Linked DNA regions of Homo sapiens. Changing the gene in region 2 together with the main gene of any one other region gives a genetic interaction. Each region holds a gene or a part of one and is shown on either strand. Other genes may lie near its edges.

Region 1 (3,500 bases), on a different chromosome or scaffold from region 2:
CAGGCTCACTCCCAGTACCACCCGCTAGACTGCACCAGCCCTGTGGTTGGTCACTGGACTCATGCTATGGGGCACTAAATGTACTCTCTGTCTCAGGCCATATTCATAATTGACAACTGTGGCCTTAATCCCTTGCATACCTGCCCACTCTCCAAGATGCATTCTGCTTACCTGAGCACTGATCTCTTCTCTCCGGAGAAGCCGAATGGCCAGGCGTAGCAACCCCACCACTGCCCGCTCCACAAGGAAGCAGAAATCTTGTGCCTGAACACAGAGGTGGTATAGATGGTCTCGAACAGTCTGCCACACACAGCCCACACGATCCCTGTGTAGACATAAAGGAATGAAGATAGTCTCAGCCAGAGGGGCCACTGGGCAACAGGTCCCCTAGGCCTTTCAGGACTCATTGGTATTATACCCTAAGTAGACAGGTATGATGAGTAAGCTTCTCCCCTGCTGCCTACAGTTCCCCAGAGCCCACTCAGCAAGATGGCTTCCATCCCTTTGGCACAAGCCCAGCATGGGGTCTGCCTAAAGACTACGCTCATCTTACCTGTTCTCCAACACAATCCTTAGCAGCATCTCTAGGCAGAAAGCAGCATCTTCCTCATCATATGTCTCTTCATCTGGTGTCACTGAGACCAGAGCCTGAAGGGGAACAGCAGCAGGAAAGTAGGCATGGAAAAGAAGCCAACCACTGGCCCTGCCCTGACAGAAATAATACTGTCCCTGTCACCCCTCCCAGATTCAGCCAGTTGTTCCATGTTTCCTTTCTTCATCCTTTACCTTCATGAGCTCCTGTAGTGACTCCAGCTGGAGGAACTTGCTTTCTGTGATCATTTTTTCTGGGTCACATTGCTAGAGAGGGCAAAAGAGAGAGGGGGTCTTTGACAAAGGCTGAAGAGAACAGAATGTCCCCAAGAGCCAGGGGGAGAGGGCAGAGTCAGCCCTGGTTACAAATCCTGGATGATTTATTCTTCAGTTCACCAAGTAGCATCTAATAGGAAGGTGTTTAGGCTTTCTCACCAGGGGTGGATGGGCAGTTACCTTTATACACTCTAAGGCCACTCTCTTGGCCTCTTGGTTTTCAGTGGATGGGCCCCGAACACTAGACTGCTCAGGACCACTCAGTGTTAGCCAGCTCACAAAGCTCAGCACTGTTGACTCTCCTCTGTAGAAAAAGGGCACATGGCCTGGTGAGCCCCAAAGTTCTGACTCTCCCTCCCCAAGCCCCTGAGCCTCTGGTCTGCTCTTACCGGTTTGATGGTGTCTCTTCCCGCTGTAGAGAGATCTTGCCATTGGGATCCACGAAATCTTCTACCTGGAAAAGTAAGTCAAAATAATTTCTTTCCATGTGTCCTTTGCATTTGTGCCCGCCTCCACCCACCAAAGTTCTCTGGATTTCCTCCTCTAGTCTTCTGCCCCTATGCTATTGTGCCAATTGGTGACTGGCAATGGCATCTACCAGCCTTCTTTTACAGCTATCCCCCAAGATCTGTGGTCTTACATTTGAGGCATTCCTGGTGAGCTGTGGCAGGCATCAGGCCCAACATTACTCTCAACCACTTACTTCTATGTACAGGTAGCATACAATGTTGCAGCTCTTGCCTTGTTATCGCTCACTAGTCTCCTACTAAGAATTACCTCTATCATAGCCTTGGGCAGTAGTTGGGCTCGGAAGAGCTGCAGCATGGCCTCCATGATATTCTTCCAGCCCTCCCGCAGGATGTCACCATGACGATGGGCCAAATGGAATACTGTCTTGGCTGCAATATGGGCTTTAGGGTTGCTTCCAAATACACTGGGCAGGTTCTCAATAGACTGGAAAAGAGGAAGAGAACAGACTTAAGGCCGAGCTAATGTCTGGAAAGGAAAATCTCTTAGGTCTCTGCCTATGATGGTTCCCTCAGGTCCTTTTGTTGGCTCTGCTTCAATCCCCCATAATACTGGTGGGAGTGGGTTAACCTAGTTAAGGCCTTCCCCACTCCTGTATCTCCTTTCCCATCCCCATTACATGAAGTAACACTAGTTTTATCCCAGAGTGTGCAAGACAGAAATGGCCTAAGCTCTGGTATATTCAAGTGGGGGCAGTGAGGGAAGACGCTGAGGGCAACCAGGTCTGTTGATAAGGGTAGATCCATGGCTAAAAGAGAGGTCCTCCTTTGGAGCTCCAAGTACACAGTTCCTGCACCTGCTCACCTCACTGCTGAGAGCTGTGAATTTGCATAGAGAGATGATGAGATTGTCAAACACATCGCTGAGGCCATAGTGGGCGGAGATCATGGCGCACTTCCTGTAATGTTACCCCCCATCCCAGAAACAGAGTCACTGGAAGGCCAAGCAGCCCTTCCAAGTCCCTGAGCTTGCATGGGGCTCTTCCCCAGTCAGTCCCAGGAAGAAACCTTTTAATTTTGTTTCTGTTTAAGACTGAGCCTACCCAAGCTTCAGCCTCCCTCCAAAAACTCAGGGGGAACCCCATTCTAATGAAGTAACAGTAGGAGTCAGAGAGGCATGGAGAAAACCATGTTAGCTCACAGAGCTAGTGGGAGGTGAAGACCAAGGCCAAAGCTGGGCTACCTGAAGCCTGAGATGGCTTTCTGGATGATTGTCTCCTCAAGGCTTTTGTCAAAGACATAAGAGAGAGCAGCAATAGTGGGGCCCCAGGTCATGGTGAAGAGGTCAAGATCATAGCTGGCAGTAGGCACACGCAGGAATATGCCCTCAGGGGTGGCACCTCGATGAAGCAGCACATTCCACACATAGTTCTCCCGAACCAAGCCTGTCTGCTCCTCAGGCATTACAATTTCCTCATTCCTGTCAGGAGGTAAGGGAAGGAGCAGTTGCACTGCTTTGAACCTGACTAGTTCCAAACCAAGACTAGGAGTTCATCCATACTAGCACTCTCCACTGATGAGAGGTCATCAGAACTGCAGCTCAGTGGTCTGCTTTCCACCCACCAGTGGGAGCAGACAGAAAGAAAGGAAGTGTCCCATAATCTCAAAGCCCTATCTGTAAGTGAGGCCTTTAGTTCTATAGTAAGATCACACATTCTTACTAGGTGTGATAAAATGAACAATTCTACCTTTTCTGATTTACAGTAAAAAACTAAGTGGCCCATTTCTGACCTGTAACCTGGGCCTCACACTCCAGTGCCCATCTTGGGTTCTCTACCAGCCAGCATCTTGTAATCTATACAGGAAAATGTACCTGTTTTAAGTTCAGAAAATGGGGCCATGATATCCTACTTAAGAGCAGCACTTTGGACCCTGGCTTAGAGTACTAGAGTCCCAATATCATTTGGGCTTCTTTAAGGAAGAAACAGTTGGCAGAGAGGGGGCTGCCCAACTAAGTCCTGAGGCTAAATCCAGGGCATGTGAGTCACTGCAGTCTGACATGACTCTAAAAACTGGGAAAGGAAGCAATGTGCTTCTTCTTAACAGAGATACTGCACTATTCTCTATGTATACTCACTTGATGGCATGGTACATGTCCTCCAGGAT
Region 2 (3,500 bases):
GAGCCCAGGGAGGTCGAGGCTACGGGTGCAGTGGGCTGTGATGCACCACTCACTCCAGCCTGATAGGGCAAGACCTTGTCTCAAAAAAAAAAAAAAAAGAGAGAAAATATTTTTGTACTGCTGTTTTGTATAATGCGTTTTAAGGTAAGTGTTTTTACAAGAGCCAAAAAGTTAAAAAAAAAAAATTAAGTTTAGAAAGTAAAATGTTGACCAGATGCCATGGCTCACACCTATAATCCCAACACTTTGGAGGCCAAAGTGGGAGGACTGCTTGAGGCCAGCAGTTCAAAACCAGGCTGGCCAACACAGAATAGCAAAACCACATCTCCTAAAAAATAAAGACAGAAAGAAAGAAAGAAAGAAAAACGTTACAGTAAATTAAGGTTAATCTATTATCCAAGAAATAAAATTTTTAGAGCAACCCCCAGTCATGCAAGCTGCATTCACGGTAAATGTCCTGTACAGGTGTACTATTTTAATCTTTTATATCATATTTTTACTGCACCCTTTCTATGTTTAGATACACAAATGCTTGCCATTGTGTTACAACTGCATACAATATTCAGTACAGTAACATGCCGAACAGATTTATAACCTAAGAGAAATAAGCTATACCATGTAGCCTAGGTTTTTAGTAAGTTATGCCATCTAGGTTTGTATTAAGTACACACTGATGTTATTCACAATGAAGAAATCGTCTGATACAATAGCAATTAAAGAAATTTCTATTCCTGTCTTTTCAGCATCTCTGAAGTTGATCATAATTCAGATCACGTCTCTAATGTTAAGCAACACATGACAATATACAAAAATTTGCTGATTACCTCTAGAACAAGGTAAATAATGGAATATCCTCAGACTATTCTTGACTTCAACAAGGTTTTCCTATTTGCATCATGCTGGCTTTTGGATTGAAATAAATACACTTTTTAATTTTTTTTGAGAGAGGGTCTTGATCTGTCACCCAGACTGGAGTGCAATGGTGCAAACACAGCTCCCTGCAGCAGCCCTGACCTCCTGGGCTCAAGTGATCCTCCCACCTCAGCACCCCCAGTAGCTGGGACTACAGGTGCATCCCTGGCTAACTTTTAAATTTTTTGTAGAGACAGGGTCTCCCTGTGTTGCCCAGGCTGGTCTCAAGTGATCCTCCTGCCTCTGCCTCCCAAAGTGCTGGGATTACAGGTATGAGTGACCACGCCAGGCCAAAATGTACTTACAATGTTAACGAAATTTCTATCTATTCCTGTCTTTTCAGCATCTCTGAAGTTGATCATATCATTTCTTCCTTTTAATTTGTTGATATAGCAAATTATAAGTGAGACTGGCCTGTGTTCTCAAGTAGTGTGTGTACATGCCATCTTAGTTACATTTTCACATGCTTGCTTCACAATTAGAATTTGGAAGATTTCAAATGGACCTTTTTGGAATAACTAAATGGTACACTTTTTCTGGAAGGAGTGTACACCATTGTTCATTGTTTTACTGCTAAATCCTCCATCATACAACACGTTCAATTTTTCAAATCACTATCAAATGTTAGATCACTTAATTTTTGACAGCATTACTAACTAGAAAGTAGGACTTATCCCCATTTTGTAAATAAAGGTCTAGACCAAATGGCCCATCTATGGTCATACATATAAGGGGCAGGGCAGCTCTCCATTTCCAAGCTTTTCCTATTACACCATGCTGTCTTTTTAGTGCTCAAGATAAAGTGGTTCTGTACGCTATAGGTATGAATGAACAATTATGGTATTCAAGATTTACACTGCATTTGAATCACAGATATAGCCAATACTGTAAGAACTTATAAAACTGTTAATTTTACTAATAGTGAAGCCACTAAAGGGTTATCATTCAGAGGAAAGAATAGATTTATGCTTTCTAGAAGGAGTATTCCAGTTGCCATGTGGAAGGTGGATTGGGAGAATTATCCAGAGTGGTGTCACATAAACCAAGATACATGTGGAAGGGGCCACACTAACAAATGCTACTGGGAGATAAAGTAGCAAAGACTTAAAACCATCTACTGATTGGATTTAGTGACAAAGAAGTCACTGGGAGCCCTGGCAGTTGTGGTGGAGTGAAAATAACAGGCATGCAGTCTGCAGAAGGTTGGAGAGAATATAGGTAACTCTTTAAGCAGGTTTCATTATAGAGACCAGAGGCAGGCAAATGTAGAAAACAAGGAAGGTTTTCTTTGAAGATGGGAGTGATCTAGGAGAGGAAGACATATGCAGTGGGAGAGGCCAAAGATAAAATACAGGGAGTATCTGAATAAAATGCCCAGAGTCAGAAGAGGAGCGGGAACCCAGTCAGTGATGGAGTAGCCTTTGATAGGATGATCTCCTTTTCCATTTCAAGAGGTGGGAAAGGATGCCTGTGAATGGATGCCAGGCTAACCAAAGCGGGGCTGCTCTCTCAGTAACAGGTTATCCAGCATGATAGCCACTAGCTACATGTGGCTACCCCAAACTAAGATATGCTGGTAAAAACACACTGAATTCTGAAGACTTAATGGAGGGAAAAATGTAATCTCATTATTTTTCTTTTTTTTTGAGACGGCGTCTCACTCAGCTGCCCAGGCTGGAGTGCAGTGGTGCAATCTTGGCTCACTGCAACCACTGTCTCCTGGGTTCAAGCGATTCTCCCGTCTCAGGATTACAGGCATCAGCCATCATGCCCGGCTAATTTTTGTATTTTAGTAGAGATGGGGTTTCACCATGTTGGCCAGGCTGGTCTTGAACTCCTGACCTCAGGTGATCCGCCCACCTTGGCCTCCCAAAGTGCGAGGATTACAGGCGTGAGCCACCGTGCCCGGCCTCAATATTATTTTTCATTTTGAAAACACATGTTTAAATGATCTTAGATATACTCAGTAAATATATTAATTTCACCTGTTTCTTTTGGCCATTTTAAATGTAGCTACTAGAAAATTTAAAATTACATATATGTTTGCATTATATTTCTATTGGATGGCACTGCTCATTAATCTTTTCACTGCTGCAGAAAAGGTGAAGTAGAGTTTGACACGTTTAACAAAGCCAAGTAAATCAAGAACATAAGCACTGACAGTCCTAACTCTGAATAAGCTTGAAAGTAAGACTAAGGCTGGGTGTGGTGGCTTAGGCCTGTAATCCCAGAACTTTGGGAGGATGAGGCGGGTGGATAACCTGAGCCAGGAGTTTGAGACCAGCCTGGGCAACATGGCAAAACTCCATCTCTTGTAGAGAAAAAATATGAAATACAAAAATGCAAAAATTAGCTCGGTATGGTAGGGTGCATCTGTAGCCGCAGCTACTCCAGAGGCTGATGTGGGAGGATTGCTTGAGCCTGGGAGGCAGAGCAAGACCCGGTCTCAAAAAAAAAAAAAAAAAAAAAAAAAAACCCAAAAAATAGGATAATCTTCTACAGAGATGTACTACTTTTAAAGAACTTTATCTTTTTTGTAAAATCGATATGAATTTGGTACTTGCTCAGTACACTGAGCCTATTGTGAA

The links. Genes that interact genetically often act in the same process or in processes that back each other up.
Region 1: changes in PDIA6 (region 2) and GBF1 together harm fitness more than expected from each alone (negative genetic interaction), as found in Homo sapiens cells (one study listed by BioGRID).

Annotation. Positions count from the first base shown.
Region 1 is NC_000010.11:102,367,532-102,371,031, reverse strand, and holds part of GBF1 (Golgi-specific brefeldin A-resistance guanine nucleotide exchange factor 1), read right to left. Parts: coding exon 3,472-3,500; intron 2,815-3,471; coding exon 2,578-2,814; intron 2,294-2,577; coding exon 2,200-2,293; intron 1,822-2,199; coding exon 1,645-1,821; intron 1,322-1,644; coding exon 1,257-1,321; intron 1,172-1,256; coding exon 1,048-1,171; intron 859-1,047; coding exon 787-858; intron 649-786; coding exon 554-648; intron 326-553; coding exon 172-325; intron 1-171. UniProt on the Homo sapiens protein: Guanine-nucleotide exchange factor (GEF) for members of the Arf family of small GTPases involved in trafficking in the early secretory pathway; its GEF activity initiates the coating of nascent vesicles via the localized generation of activated ARFs through replacement of GDP with GTP.
Region 2 is NC_000002.12:10,806,286-10,809,785, forward strand, and holds part of PDIA6 (protein disulfide-isomerase A6 isoform d precursor), read right to left. Parts: intron 1-3,500. UniProt on the Homo sapiens protein: May function as a chaperone that inhibits aggregation of misfolded proteins. Negatively regulates the unfolded protein response (UPR) through binding to UPR sensors such as ERN1, which in turn inactivates ERN1 signaling.